Regions from separate parts of the Homo sapiens genome. Here region 2 is linked to region 1. A link means that fine-mapping ties the variant in region 1 to the expression of a gene that starts in the linked region. Tissue or cell type: lung. Region 1 holds a variant in brackets; the other region holds the start of a gene. All regions are shown on one strand. Distances are from middle to middle.

The links. PIP is the estimated chance that this variant, and not a neighbour inherited with it, causes the effect.
Region 2: it holds the start of FYCO1, and the variant in region 1 is fine-mapped to the expression of FYCO1 in lung (TOPMed, PIP above 0.99). The same link has a PIP of 0.9 or more in sun-exposed skin, thyroid, tibial nerve and whole blood.

What each region holds. Positions count from the first base shown.
Region 1 is chr3:45,916,217-45,924,314 of GRCh38, forward strand. It overlaps FYCO1 (FYVE and coiled-coil domain autophagy adaptor 1), which reads right to left. Exons shown (of 18, transcript NM_024513.4): 17 at 7,440-7,549; 18 at 1,687-5,624. The coding sequence ends at 5,549. Among named protein-coding and RNA genes, the nearest start is that of CXCR6, 23 kb to the right of the region's middle. RefSeq lists an enhancer at 1-252. The variant T/C (reference allele first, on the strand shown) is at 5,044.
Region 2 is chr3:45,991,602-45,999,706 of GRCh38, forward strand. FYCO1 (FYVE and coiled-coil domain autophagy adaptor 1) reads right to left here and starts at 4,223. Exons shown (of 18, transcript NM_024513.4): 1 at 4,121-4,223. LOC105377063 (a long non-coding RNA gene) reads left to right here and starts at 4,302. Exons shown (of 3, transcript XR_940799.3): 1 at 4,302-4,488. RefSeq lists enhancers at 1,476-1,976, 4,022-4,521, 4,022-4,071, 4,092-4,251.

The DNA.
Region 1 (8,098 bases):
CCCGGATTACCTGGAATCAAGCGTGGGGCTTGGAAACCCTCCAGCAAAGACTTGGGTCATCTTGAGTTATTCTGCAGTTTAGCAGGGTGGGGTGAGGTGGAATGGAGGATTTTGACCTGGAGGTCCCCAGATCCCAGCCCCAGATGCACAGCACACACATATATGTATGTCTCAACTGTTTCTTGTTCTAGCCCCCAGCCCATGAGGCCCCCAAGCCTCAGGAAGGACTGTTGTATTAACAAAGAAACTCTCTGGCTCTGTCATTTGGGGCAGGTGGAGTAACTATCTGCCATTACTGCAATCTGGTTACTAGATAGATACTTGATCTGAGGGTACCTTTTTATTTTTTTGAGACAGGGCCTCACTCTGTCACTCGTGGAGTGGCATGATCTTGGCTCACTGCAGCCTCTACTGAGTTGGGACTATAGACATGCACTACCACACCTGGCTAATTAAAGAAAAAAAAATGTAGAGACGGGGTCTCACTGTGTTGCCCAGGTGGTCTTGAACCCCTGGGCTCAAGCAATCCTCCTGCCTTGGACTCCCAAAGTGTTGGGATTACAGGCGTGAGCCACTGCGCCCAGCCCAAGGGCATCTTTGACATAAGAGGGGGTGCAGGGGGTGGGACTGAGTGACCAGCTATCATTGCCTGTATCTCCTCCTGCAGGCCCACCCTTTCCCTCCTCTGCCACCGGAGTGTTTCAGGAGCCTCTATTCCTGGCAGAGTTAGTCGCCAGTGGGAATGCTGATGACTTTTTGGCGACCCAGGGCACTGGGACTGACCCGAGAGGTCAATTCAGTATTTTTTGAGTCCCTTCCTGCCTGGCATGTTGCTCGATGCTGCGGTGGGGAGAGAAGGGAGGAGGGAGATGAAGATAAAGATGAAGGATTCACTGTCTTTTATCCTTGGGAGAGAACCAGAGTTACAGAAAATGTGACTTCTTCCATGGAGTAACAGATTAAAGAAGAGGCCAAACGAAAGTCTGGCAGCAGGAGAGGGCTGGCGGAGGAAGGGCGGTGAAGGGGTGGTGTGGGGAGGTGTTCTTTTGAGGTGCAGAGCACTGCAGGGACAGAGCCCTGGTCATCCCTGGAGTGGGGGTGTGAGGTGAGTGTGGGTGGGCTGCCCAGCCTGAGCTCAGTCCAACATCCAGCAGTGACCAGGGCATGCCCCTCTGGGCCTCTGTCCAGGCTCTTTGCTGACCCAGCCAGAGAAAGGTATGCGGGAATGGGAGGGCTGACTTCTTCCTCTGCCAGCCATCTCAGCCTGGCAGTCTTGCCCAGCTTTGTACCTCATATTGACCAATCATGGTTTTAGGCCATCCATGATGCTTCTCCCCAGCCCCATTGTTCCGGTAAACTCAGAAGTCTGCTCTTTGCTCAACATGCTCTGTGGGTGCCCTGGGAGATCTGGACATTTGAGCTGAGGCTAGAAGCCCATAGGGCACAACAGCATGGATTGAAAGACAGGCTGTCTCAGGCAGGTCTAAACACCACCCTCACAGCAGGCCAGGAAGCAGCCAGGTGCCAGGCCACCTGGAAACTTCCCAGAACATCTGCTGGCTCAAGTCCTCCTGAAAAGCCACCATAAAAGATGCTCTATTTCCCAGCAGCACAGCTCAACCCCAACTCAGCTCTGTATAACTTCGTGGTGCACTTTATGTCCCAAAAAAATGAGAGACAAATGTCTAAATGTCATAGTGTTTACTTTATTTAAATCCTGAGGTTAAAAATAAAGTATTTCCACATGGCATGGCAGACACTATAAAATAATATGCTTAGGGATACAAAAGTTTTCCACCCCCATTGAGCAGGTGGGGTGCTGGTATTTGATGTGCTTCTAGATAATTCTTTGGCAGATAAGAATGAATTGGGGTCCCAGACCCACCATCCCGTAAGGCCACATGAATTGAGGATTAATCAATTAAAGTGCAATTCCAAATGTTGAGCCTTCCAAATGAGGCTTGGGTATTGCTCTGCAGCCACCAGAGGCAGAGTGTCTCTGCATAACATACATCAAGCAGCCTTTTTCTTTTTTTAAATCAGAGATGCCTCCCCAAATTTCAAGATGTACTTTATTATTTTAAAAGTGCTTAAGAGGAAAGAGAGAATTATTAATTCAGTCTCTCCTGTTTCCTTGGAAGAAACATAATGAAATGAGAAGAACTTACTAAAGTTCCCCTACAAAGTGCTTTCTTGGTAAGTGTTTTGTAAACAAGAATGGCCGTCTCGATGGTCTTTGTGTACATGACCATCCTTGGTTCTAAGCATCACGAATGGCTTCTCTCTGCTTTAATTCCCAACACCTCTGAGCCAAGGACAGTTTCTTGGCCTAAAGAATTCTCATATGTAGAATCATGCGCACTTTTAAAACTGAAACTCCTTTAAAATTTCATCAGTGGACATCCAACCATATCATAAAACACAGGCTCTGTGATTTCATCCCCAACTGGCGATTTCCTTTCATTTGGGCCTGAAATAGTTTCACCACCTTCGATGATAATTTTAAAATTTCCAAAACACCATTTATTCTTGAGTTATATGACGTGGCTTTTCATTTCTATTCTCCAAACCCTGTGGAGTTTTTCAGTTCCCGTGTCTTTGCCTGCTCTTGGTCCAGTCCACCTGGAATCCAGTGTGTTGAGGTCAAGCACTCTGTAGAGTCCACTTGGACCTGGAGGACAACACTTTGTGCCAAACGTGCCTCCTTGTTTGTGGGTAAGTGAATCTGACAGAGGTTGGCATGTTCTTGAAGGTGGTGAGTGGCTTCAGTGGCATGATGAAGAAGGCATCTGGTATCGATATGAAGACGTAACTGTTATTCAGAGAGATGAGCCATCAAGGGGCTGCCCCTTTTAAAAAAAAAAAAAAAGAGTGATCTGGGATCCCAAGGACGCTTCCTTCTGGCTGATTTCTAGTGTAATTCAGTCTAGCCAGGGCTACCACCTGCAGCAGTGGTTCTTCAATTGCTATTTGCATTTCTTTAAAGTACCCCAGTCCTTAATTCTCAGTAAAGTTGGGAATCTGATTAATATCAGAATAAAGCTATTTATAAAAGCCACTCTTAAATATGCCAAGATGTTTTGTAGCTGCAGAGAGCACAGCAAACTTGAGCTTAAACAGCAACCTAACAAAATACAAATGTCCACCCAGCACAAAAAATAAATTCGCTAATGAAACCACATAGTTAGGAAGTCACCTCAGGGCACGGGGCAGTCCTCCGAATGCAGCAAAGGCTTTTTTTGAACAATAGCAGTCAGTGCTCAAGGTGTTGCACGCAAAACATCCAGCTCTCCTGGAGGAGTGGTTCTGGGTAAGCTGCAACCGGTCCTCTGCTGTGGAGTGACATGTTCAGGAAGGACCTCAGATGGAATGTCCCAGGCCCCAAACCCATTAGCTACTCAGTGAATGGTGGTTCTTGTTGCATATGGTGCCAGTGACACTTCAGAAGGTCATCAGCTTGGCCAGAGTCTCCGCAGTATCCTTGGAAAGCCAAGCACTCAAAGATTCTAGATTGCTCTGGGTTCTCTTTTGTTAGTTTCTTTCTAACAGTGAACAAGCTGACTTCTGATTATCATTTGCAAGTGGCTGGATGGATTCAAAGTTAGCATGATTTGTTCTGAATCATCTCAGGCCACGTGGCATGCCTGTGAGGACAAACATCAGGCCAAGAAGAGTCGCTGGGGGCCTGGCCACCTCTATTCCAGTACTAAGCATGGTCAGAGCCTTGGCCAGGAGAAGATGATTGAGCACCTGATGGCTTTCTGCCAGAAGAGGCTGCTCCAAGGAAGCCGAATGCAAGAGGCCCAGCTTTTCTCTGGGCAACCTCTTTGAAAGGTTCTATTCCCTGTTCCCCATGCCTTGCTTAAAAACTGACTGGAAGTGCTCAACTCTCCTGTTTAAAGGTCTGAGTCCATTCCAGAAATGACCTCTTACTTGTGGCCCCACAAAAGTCCTCTTTGTTGGTGGTGAGGTTGTGGCTGCTGGTGTGTGGTGGGTTTGGGGTCTCTGTTGGACTTGGCCTGGAGTCCCTGACCCATTCTCAAGCCCTCAAAACCAGCCAGACCAGGGTTATGACAAAGAGAAACTTTGGGAAATGTGTGACTGGACTTAGGTCACAAGGGTAGCTGGAGGAACTGCCGGGCCCAGCTCTCAGATTCTCGGATAGCCTGTCTGGTGCTCTCTCCCTCACCCCTGGCCAAACTGGGACCTTTTGTCAGATGCTCTGTTCACCCATGGAAGAACCTGGGGCCTGACTGCAGGCAGCTGGTTCCATGAACAAGGGACGAAGAGCTGTCCAAGGTGAGCTATCTGTTGTTGGGGAAGAAAAGGACCACAGAGAACAGGGAAGATTAAATAATTCTTGTCTGGGAATAGGGAACAGGATCTCTCTGCCTCAAGGGGGGATGTCTCCTGGAGGTCTGGTGTGGGCTGAGCAGTGGGAAGTGGGCAAATGGGCTGTTGGGGAACCTGTCAGGAGGGGAGTGGGGCCCAGGGATCCATCATGCCTCTGTTTACTCTGTTACTTTGGTTCTTAAGTTATCAAAGACTTTTGTTAAGAAGGCCCCAATGTTTGAAAGTGGTTCTAATCCTGGCTATGATCATTAGTAAACATGTCTGCAGGTGGGGCAGAAGCTCTTATTTATATAAACAAAAGTGGGCCATCAGCTGAGGAGTAGCTCTAAAGCCAATGCACAATCCTGCTCTGTGGTCACAACATCCACACTGGCTGGCATTTGGGCATTAGATGTAGTGTACACACAGCCATTGCAGGCCCCAAGTACAGTGGGTTTTGCTCTTGGATTATCTTTACTTCTGATTCTTAGGGCAATGCTTTGAGCTGTGGAGAGGTCTGGCTGAGTGAAGGGCTTTATTTGAGGACAGAATCACCCAGACAAAAGGGCCAGAAAGAGAGTGCAGCTTAGAGGCCCCTCCAACACTGCTGAGTTCTGGAGCAGCCTCCAGCTTACTGGGGCAGTGAGGGACAAGAGCATGACTGGAGGAGCTGGTCAGGATCTCCGGGGGGTCCCCTGGCACCGACTCGCA[T/C]GATGGCTGTGTACCTCCTTTTCCCAGGAGTACCTGAGGGCGTCACAGCCTGAGGATTCACAGGGCATGGCCAGTGCACCCAGCTCAGTCTCCAACATGCAGGGCCCTGGTGGGGCAGGGCAGAAAATCTCTCCACAGGCAGAAGTTGGAATCACCCCTGCCCGTGAAACTCTCCACAAGAGGCCTGTAGCCAACTGTGCTCCCAGGAGAGGCTGATGGTCTCCTGGGTGTTTAAACCTTTGGCAGAGCATCCCTTTGGGTGTGACAACAGCTGAGTCTCTACTTAATGGAAACATTGCCTGAGCCCTTCAACGCCTCGGGGGCTAAGAGTGGCCGGTGCAGAGTGCTGAGCACAAAGTCCTCCCCAGACACCGCCTCTGAGGGGCAGCCCAGGGGCTGAGTTGATGATTTTGGAGCAGCTGACTTTTTAAAAAAATGCTTTATGTGACAGGTGAGGAAGAGCAGTGTTTCCTGTGGATGAAGTGAAGTTACTGAGGTGCTGAAGCTACAGGAAATCACTTCCATCGTAGATCACAGGCCGATCAACCGTCAAGTGATAAAATACCTTTTTAGAGACAAACCTGAGGAAACAGAAATGGAAAGGGAGGGTGTTACCTGAGAGCTGAAAGTCCGAGGGGTGGCAGCTGCTGCTGAGGCCTCTGTGGTCACTGCAGTGACCTGGCTGGGTGTGGGTGCTGGAGCCCCATGCCCCATTTCCTGTCTGTCTAGTGGAGTTCTCTCCCTGGGAGGGTCAGAGGGTTTCGGGACATCACTGTGGACTCTCCTGAGGCTTGGGTGCAGAAATGCCCTTTTGATCACAGGCTGTGAATATCACCTCCCTCACCTGGCTGCTCTGAAGCAGCTGGTGGTGGGGACTGCACAGTGTGTGTATGGTGGTGTGAGGAGCAGGCAATGGGAGGAGGCATATGGTGGAGGCCAGCACGGATTTTTTCCTACTCGGCAGCTAACTCAGTTCTGATATCCATAGTTTGGAAATCTCAAGTAGGCCCCTGAGATGACCTCGATGGGCCAAGGCCAGAGTTTGTCACAGCACCATGGCCACCTCTAGGGATAACTGGGAGCCTGCTCGGGCTTGGGACGGTGCTCTGCCCTCATCACATCTCTCCTTGGTCTCTCCATCAATCCACAGTGTGGTTGCCACTGCAGAGTAGGAAATGGAGACTCAACTAAGGGCCGCTGGGGGAAGAGCAGAGCTTGGGCCTGGTGGTCCCCAACCCATTCTCCTAACCACTGCCCTATCCTGTTCAAGAGGGGCTGGGGCTCATGTCCACTCTTGGGGTAGAGGGTGGCTCCAAAGAGAGCTCTCTGGCCATGATAGGTCTATGCCATGAGGTCCTGCTAACTCCAGGGGTGCTTTCATTTCCACTTGGGAGTGTACGGAGGGGCAGGAGGGGGTGAGGTGGGAAGTTCATCTTCCAACCCCTCCTCTGGTGGGCACTCTTGGCCACAAGCCCTGGCAGTTCAAGGCCTGGAGGTGGTGAGGGGATGACTCAGGTTTTCCCTAGTGTCCTGTCTAGTTATTCTGCTAAGAGCCAAGTACCCATGCTGGGGATGTGACCGGTAGCCCAGGACCTTGCTCAGAGAGGATGTGGCCAGAAACAGATCAGGCAGTTCTCTCTAAAGAGCTGGTTCCAGTTAAGGGGTCTGTGCTGAAGCAGAAGACATAAACAGGGGCAGGTGCCCAGCCCCTCTCCAAATGATTGGCAGATACTCAGTCAATGCTGGTCCTGTCTCCACTCCCCTCCTGCTATCCCTCTGGCCTCATCTCCCTCCATTCTCATTCTCTTGTCCAGCTTCTCCCCCATCTCCCAACCTATACACTCCTGAACCTTAGCTGGTTCTCAGAGTGCTTCCCAGAGATGGCACCTGTCGCTCCCGCCACATGGCCAGGGGCTTTGTGGTGCAGTTTTGGGCTTGCTTATCTCAAGCTCTGCCCTTCCTTCTTTTATTTCTCCCTTTCTCGTTCATTCATTCATTCAGTCTTTCCATTGTATTTCCTAAGCCCCTTCTTTGGGCAGGGCAGTGGCAGAGCAGTGGGAATCAATATCAGAGAGAGGGAAAGGGCACCTTGGTTATGAAGAGTTCAGACTGGCCAGACCGCCTGGTTCAGATCCAGCTCCACCACTGGCTCTGTGACTTAGGAGTGTCACTCCTCTACCCCTCAGCAGTGACATGGTAAGACTCTGCAAGCATGAGCCTGTGTGTCACAAAATCTCTAAAGAACACTGGAACACCACAGGAGAGGGGTCAACAATCAAAGAACAATTAATAATAAGTTACTGACAAATAATTGGTTTTGAGTGTCCACCTCTGCTCTTTAGAAGAGGTGAAAGAGAGGCCTGGAGACGTGGAGCTGGTGCCTGAGGTGGCCCTACCTTGAGAAGGTATTGTCGAAGATGAGCATGTAGATGCCGGGTGTGCGAACCTTGAGCTGGCCCTGGATGTTCTCCTTGTGGGAGTTGCATCGGGTCGTGGGAATGAGGACCTGGGAGGGAAAGCAGGTAGGCAAAAACATCACAGAGGCTGAGAGGGCCCTCGGCATCCTCAGGGAAGACCCTTTATTTTGGGGTAGGAGGCTGAGTGTGTTGCCTGAGGTCACAGATGAGCAGAGCCGGAGCTGTGACCAGCCCCAGTAGTGGCACAGTGCCATCCCACAACCTGAGGCTGTTGATGACTCGTGGCTATGAGTTTCTTCCAGAATCATGACTTGGTCAGCACCCTTAAGGAGTGATCCCCTAGCCTTGAACATAGAAGATGCTAGAACACTCCATGGGCTAAAGGAGAAGCCCTTTTCTGCCTTCAGGATATGAAGCTTAGTCTAGGTGGGATCCATCTGTCCAGCTGTCTCCTGTTGGTCCTGGTGCTGCCCTTGGGTCTCGCAGGACAGGCTGAGACCTCCTTCCAGATAACAATCTTCCAGGCACAAAGCTGCTGGGCCCACTCTCCTCCAGGCTCGACATCTCTGGCTCCACCTAGGCCTGTCTCCTGGCTGTGCTTTGGCTGGTCCATGTGCCCCAGGACCCTTTCATCTTCC
Region 2 (8,105 bases), 75 kb after region 1:
GCCAGCTGCTCCAGTCTCGCTGGGTTTGGTGTGGACAGGAGGAAGTGTGAACCACAGTTCGGTTCCCGAGGAAGCCTTACCCACAGCCTCCTTCACCCCATCCTGGAAAATGAAAAGCACCGCCACCCTCACAAACAACCCTGCTAACCCAAACCTCCTGTCAGGGGGTGAATTGTGCACACCACCCCACCGCATTTCGATGTTGAAGCCCTAACCCTCATACCTCAGAATGTGACTGCATTTGAAGACAGGGCCTTTAAAGAGGTAATGAAGATTAAATGAGGCCATGAGAGTGGGCCCAAATCCAATTGGAACTGGTGAGTTTATAAGGGGAATTCTGGACACACACAAGAGATACCAGGGATGCGGAGCACAGAGGAAAAGCCGTGTGAGGCCACAGCAAGAAGGCGGCTGTCTGAGAGCCAAGGAGAGAGGCCTCAGGAGAAGCCAAACCTGCCAATGGCTTGATCTGGGACTTACAGCCTCCAGAACTGTAAGAAAGTACATTTCTGCTGCTTAAGCCACTCAGTTTGTGGTATTTTGTTATGGCAGCCCTAGCACAAATACACCTCCCAAGGCCCTTGTCTCTCCATTCCTGAAAGTGTGCATGTGACACCATCAACAAGGCAACCTGGGGAGGGGAGGTGCTGGTGGGCCTGGGTTCTGTTGCACTTCTTGGGGAGGAGCATGACAACAGCAGTGCCAGCGTAGGTGCAGAGAGGCAGAAGGTGGGGCCATGCTGCAGATGGGAGGGGCAAGCAGGACCCAGGATGGCTCTGAAGCTGGAGTTGGAGCAATGAGCAAGATATTTTCTTCTCTCTTACCAGTGGTAGCCAAGTTTTGTCAAATGGGACCCTATTTAGATTTTGGAATCAGACTAGTTACGTGAACTTTCCATTATGTATTATGCAACAAAGATCATGCCATGGTTGGGTGAGACCCAAGGTATATTTAGCTTACTCAACTATTTTTAGGCACTCTATCTGTCCTGGGGAAGTCATTTGACCTCTTCCTACCTTTCTTTTTTCAGATGCAATGTTGAGAGGTAAACTTCCTTCATGTGAATTAATTAAGAATTGCAACCCTTGAAGGAGGTGGGAAAGGGGGGGTAACAGACATTCTCAGTGGCTGAGGCTTCTAAGTGTCCCCTCCCTGCTCCTGACCAAGTCTACAGATACCCTGGAAAAAGCATCTGGGGCTGCAGAGTCAACTTCAGGAAATTCCTTCCAGCTCCATTTTAAACCACTGTTTCTGATTCAGCTATCCAGCCCTATCCTGGACTTCACATAGGGATTCTTCTCTTGGCCTTGCCCCCTGCATGCTAATGGTTTTCTTGGAATGCTTTTTTTGGTCCAAGCTTTTCTTTTGTATGCTAAGGACTTCCCCTAACTCGGGTTCCTGGGACTGGCCTAGGGTATAGTACTCTAGATTCCTGAGGTAGTTGGCCAGATCAGCCCTTGGGTCCCAGCCACAGGGCCACAATACTATACCCAAACCACAGATTCTCCTTAAGTCTTTCATCAGAACCACACTGATGTACACATCCTCCAAATGGCATCCGGCCTAATGAGAAACAGGCCCTTGGTGCCTTTCAAATGCCACAGAGATCCAAGTGAACAGGAAGGACCACTGGAAGTTACTAAAATCAACAGGTTGACTGGCTCCCATGTGAGAAAAGGGATAAAACTGCTCTTGCCTAACTGAGCACAGCTTCTGCCATCATCCTCTTCTCAAAGCCATGGGGCCCATTTGCTCCAAGGCAATGGCTCTTATTATGGGGGTAGTACAGACATTTCAGCCATTTTTGTGATGTATCAACGAACAGCAAGAAGGTAAACAGCATTTCCATAGGTAGAACCACAGAAACATTCCAATTCCCACCCTATTGATTTATTTAATTGCTCAGATAGAGGCTCTTATACCAATAAAGACTTCTTATTTTCTTGAAACTGGCATTGAGCTCACAAACAAAATACTGTTTATCTTTTGACTAAGACAAGAACATAGCAGTCATGACGTGAGCAGATGTTGCCCTGACCATAATGGACTCATCTGTGCTCACAAGTTGCCTCTGTAATCACAGGCACCAGTTAATGACCCTTACCTGCTGCCTAGGGCTGCTTGCAGTGAACGTGGTTCCTAAATCTAGGTGCCTACCAGTGATTTCCACCATAAGACCACAGCTAGACAACACACTTCCTCTGCCTCATGTTTAAAGACATTCTAGTCTTGAGTCACCAAAGCTGTGTCTTTGGAATCTTCAGTAAACAAAAGTTACCTATCAGCTAAACATCTCCCCTAAAGGGAAGCAGGGTGGGTGGGGGTGAGGGGGCTGCCATTTCTTGCGTACCTACTTTGTATTCTTGAGTCAGCAGTCCATAGCCTTGGTGACCAATATGGGTCAAAGCTACCAGCTGCTCTGATCTTGCTCTGTTATGGGTGATTCCTCTCATCACAAACATCTATGGGGGCCATCCCCCTCAAAAAGGACCAGGTTAAAAACTTGGCTCCTGAAATTATACTGGTGCTCCAAACCCAGCCCCAAGGGGCAAAGGTCATCGGAACAACAGCTAAAGGATCACTGCCTGAGACTGTTACCAATCTCTAAAGTAACTGCAAAAAAAAAAAAAAATCAAAGTAAAATATTAAGAATTGAGTATACGGATATTCACCATACAATCCTTTCAGTGATTCTGTATGTTTATTTTTCTAATAAAATATTAAAAACAATTTAAAAAGTAAATGAAGTGCTACACAAAGATAGTCACTTTGAACATAAACAGATAAACTCTATTTCCTAAAGCAAGAGCCTTTAGGAGAGATCCTATTAATCAAAGGAGGCTGAGATCCATCACTGTGACAATTAGCTCTTATTTTCAGGGTGATAATAACCACGGTGCACAACTAGTATGGGGCATTCAATGCTTTCAGAACAGTGGTTGTCACAGAAGGGAGGGTCAAGTGGAGCTCACTCAACAGGGGTCCACTTCAGAAGGTGGGAACTACTGAAAGCAGAAAACCTTGGCATGATAGCTCCAGCTCCCCACCCCTCCCCCACACCAGCCCCCAACACCCTCCAGCCGCATTAGGCAGATGGCAGGGGAATTAAGCTTGCAGCCTGAGACCACAAGGCCTGCACGGGCAGGAGAACCAGTGAGCAGATTAAGCCCTGGATCCTCTGCCCCGCAAAAGCCCCTGACCCATTTCTCTGTCGGGAAAGGAAACTGCTGTGGTAAGACAAGCAGAGGGGCTGAGAGGCTCTGGCCAACACAGGCAGTTTCAACAAGTGTTCTATTTTTTTTTCTGGAGAGGACACCCAATGGGAACAGTGAAGAGTGACAGGGACATCAGAGAATACATGTGCTTTAACAGGGGGCCACGCGGTTAACGTGTCAACCACATGTGCTTTTCTTACAAAAAATAAAATCCCGCCATCCTCCCCCCTCCCCGCCCCACCCCCGCCAGGTTTCAACAGCACGGACTCCAGTCCAGTGCAGTGCCGCCACACCAGAGACAACAGGTGTTTCGGGAAAAGACCCCTGGGGGCTAGCTCGAGACCCTGCGCATGGGCACAAGGGGCAGTGGATAGTGAATAGGTCTTGGCCAAAGGATGGGCCAGGAAGAAAGAAGCTTCTTCCCCTCCTGGGAAGAGGGCAGAGATCCGAGCACCAGCGGAGTCTTGCAAAGTGAAGGTCTGGGCTGTCCCGGCCCAACTGGGCCAGAGACTAAACTTCCTAAAGACCACGCAGGCAGGAACTCCGGGGCCTGCCCCATCCTGCGCTAAGACATTCAGGCTTGTTCTGAGACGCCGCATGGTGGGCTCCTTTCCTTTGCGGGCCCTCCGCCCTCCGGGGTCTTGGAACTGGTGTTTGGGGTCTGTCTTTCTAACCGACCAACAGAGGCAGGCTGGGTGCCTGGGCCGGCTTCCACCTGCCCGAGGTGCTTCCCGGCCCGCTGGGCAAGGACGGGGGCGCTCGGGCAGGGTCTGAGGGAGACCTGGGATGGGCGGGGACTGTAAGGGCAACAGGTGACAAGCCGCGCCCCGAGCGAAGCTCTCGCCTCAGGGATCGTGAGCGACCCAGGTGCCCCCAGAGTCCAGCCGGTCTTCCGCGGCACTTACGCGCTCGTGGGTCCACCGCCGGGCAGAACCGAAACTTTCTGGGGCCAAGCGGAAGAGGACGGGAACGCGGTGCTGACGGCCATGACGCGCACACCAAGAGGGTGGCGGGGGCGGACTACAACTCCCGGCGTGCTCCCCGGGGCTGAGGCCTGCAACTCCCATCGGACTCCCGGGGCTCCGACTACAACTCCCGGCGACTCCGCAGGGCGGGGTTTAAGTGCTCCCACCGCCCAGTCCCCGGACCGACTGTCCCACCCGCGACCCATGCTGGCCCCAGGTTAACGCCTGCAACCCCGGAGGGCCACAAATCAAAGGTCTGGCATCTTGACAACAACGCTGTTCTTGTGTGGCTAAGGAGCACTCCAAAGGTAGCTAGTTCGAGTTGAATCGTGCACGTGCTGTAAGTGTGAAATACACCTAGGTACCAAAGAGTCCGAAGAATGTTAACTAGCTCATTAATTTTTAGTGATTGCATGTTAAAATGATAATATTTTGATATATTGGGAAATAGAAAAACATGTATTGGTGGGCCTAATTTCCCATCTTTTAATCCCCCTTATTTCTTAATATCAGGGTCTTACTTAAAATTAGTGCTCAAAAACTACGTGTTTATGAACTACCACCCCTAACTTTGGCCCCATCCTCAGCCCAACTTCTATTTATAAGATGGGTGTTGCAAAGCACTGTGGAACTGAATACGATAGAACAAAATGCATTCAATCAGTGTCCGCTATGGGCACAGTAGAAAAGAGGAACACTACACGGGGACTTTGGCTTCTAACTGACTGCATTCCTTAGCTGTGGCTGGCTATCCTTTACTCTCTGCCCTAGTTCTCATCATTTAAGCCAGAAACAGCTCTCTCCCTTGTAGGACCTAGCTCGTGGTATCCAGTCAGGAACCGTGGTGGCCCAACATTCTAAACTGAGGAAGCAGGGTGTTGTCTGGGTACAATAATACAGAAAGAAAATCAATTTCTTAGTCGATTTTAGGCTATGACATCTCATTAGCCATCTAATTTTATAAATTAGATGTAGCTAAAACAGTGAGTTGGATGGATGGAGTAGTCAGTTTGGGGGTGGGGTTGGGAGGAGGTACATGAATAGAAGTGATTTCCACTCTTGTTAACAGAAAGGAGAACAGAAAGAAAACGGGGGGAGTGAGAAGATGACAAAGAGAAAAGTAATCAATGTAGTGGTCTAAGAGAAATCATTGCTCCAACCACTGTCTGAACAGCTTCATGCAATATTAAGGATGAGAGAGATTTTAATGTTGGTCATCTGGTCCAATATCCTTGTTTGAAACTGTGTGGGGAAAAAAAAACCTCCCTCAAACCGTATTTTTCCTCTACTCTTACACAACAGCAATCATCAACACAGGAGAATAATTTGGTGACCAGATGTGTGTGGGGTTTTCCCCACACACTGAGCAGTGGACCGCACCTGGGTGTCCTCCAATTCAATTCCGACACTATCTACCTGGAGTATCAGATCCCACAAGTGGAGGGCTCAGTCCCCAAGACTGCCTCCTCACCTTTAAACACCAGTTGTAAGTCTAGGCCTCCAGAATTTTGGAATGACTGGCTTCAAGTTGAGTTCCCACGACACCCTCTTTGGGTTCAGCTAATTTGCTAAAGTGGTTCATAGAACTCAGAGAAACACATTTACTGGTCTATTATAAAGGATACTGCAATGGATGCAGATAAAGAGACACGTAGGATGAGGTGTGGAGGAAGGGGCGTGGGGCTTCCATGCCTTCCCTGGATGCACCACTCTTCAGTAACCTCCACGTGTTCAGCTATCCCGAAGCTCCCCGAATCCAGTCCTCTTGGGCTTTTATGGAAGCTTCGTGATGTCAGCATTGCTTCCCCCAGGGTATAGGGGAGGACCCTCTCTTGGGAGGGTCTTAAGACCTATAATCAGAAAGGCGGGGGAAGCGGCTGGGCACGGTGGCTCACGCCTGTAATCCCAGCTCACGCCTTGGGAGGCCGAGGTGGGCGGATCACCTGAGGTCGGGAGTTTGAGACCAGCCTGACCAACATGGAGAAACCCCATCTCTATTAAAAATACAAAATTAGCCGGGCGTGGTGGCACATGCCTATAATCCCAGCTTCTAGGGAGGCTGAGGCAGGAGAATCGCTTGAACCCGGGAGGCGGAGGTTGCGGTGAGCCAAGATCGAGCCATTGCACTCCAGCCTGGGCAACAAGAGCAAAACTCCATCTTAAAGAAAAAAAAAAAGAAAGAAAGGCGGGGGAAGATTAGAGTCCTGCCTTAAAGCAGGTGAAAGGAGGGCAGAAGGCCAGAGAGATTCGGTTTCCTGAAGCCTAACATACCTAACATAACAAAAGACTGTAACAAGGGCTATGGGAGTTATGAGCCAGGAACCATGGAAGAAAACCAAGATAGATAGATAGATAGATAGATAGATAGATAGATAGATAGATAGATAGACAGACAGATAGACAGACATCATAATACCACAGAAACTTAAACCCAAAAGGAGTTTGAAAAGAAAAGGAAAACAAACCTAATATTTATTGAGGACCTATATGCCAGTCCCTAGCCCCCCAGCAAAAAAACAAAAAACAACAACAAAAACCCATTCAGCATTATATTTAAAACTTGCAGCCACTTGGTGACATAATTAGTATTCATTATCATACTTTGAAGATGAGGAGATGAAGCTCAGAGAGGTTAAATGACTGTCCTGGTCCACCCACCTAATAAGTGGTGGAGAGTGGTGGAGGCTGGGGTAGAGCTGGGGGCTCCTGAGGGGTCTTCTGTCACCCAGCACACTGTCAGATACAGGGAAGGTTAACAAAATCACTACTGTTCAGGTAGTTTAACTTGGATTTCCTTTATAGATACAGCAGAGTATTTCAAACTATAATCTTTCAAACAAACATACAAACAAACGCAGCATATTCTTGTGTTCTGATGTGAATACACATTAAGAGATCAGATTCAAAATCACCAAATCCCCACACCCTCTCCTTACAGCCTTAACAAGTGGCAGAAGAGGAGACTATTCCTCACGGGAAGCTGACCGTGCCCACGGCCCTGAGGAGGGATGAGGCTCTTGGAATGATTGTTAAGGGCTTTTTATGTGCCAGGTGCCATGTTATGTGTATTCCACACCTGGTTTAGTTTTATCCTTATATCAGTCTCATGATACATAATTATCCACATTAAGCAGATAAGCAAACAGCCTTAGAGAAGTTAGCTAATTTGCCTAAAGCCCAAACCTTATAGTGGCAGAGACAAATTTTGAGCTCAGGTCTGTCCAATTAGAGTTTAAGCCTTTAACCACTGTGATGGCAGCTCCTTCCATGGGGCAGCCATGTGCTCTGCCAAGGACCCTACCATTGTGGCCCCTGCTGGTCAGGCCAGAAGTGGATGCCAGCCATGCCAATGGCATGGGGTGGCAGCTCAAAAGAGTCAGCCTCCTCTTGATAGTCACTGGTCAATTAATCTCTCTGCTGGAAAATTCGAGTGTAAGACCCACGGAAGGAATCAGAAGTTGACTGCAGAATCAACAGCTCTAAGCTGGTTGAGCTATCTTCCCCTACAGAACACAGCTTTTCAGTAATGATTCATAGACAATGCAGAAGGATGTGGACCTCAGGGCTCCGGAATTTGGTTTGAATTCTGACATGTATATTTTCCAGAATTTTTTCTCCATAACTCTACTATTGACTTTTCTCCTCAACCCTTCATCAACTGAAAACTTTTGAAATTTTAAAATAAGCTCTTGATAATACAGATTTAGACTTTTTCCATTTTAAGTGATAATAATAGAAAATAGCATTTCCCACAGAATAAGGGGACTATACTTCCTGGTTCAGCCAAGAGAGCCCTGTTATCCCAGCATGAATATTCACAGCACCTCTGTTCACTCCCAGTGGTGTCCCATTTTCTCAATACATTATAGTTACTGTTCGGGAAAAACTCTCAAACCGGTTTTCCTCTGTTCTCACACCACAACAA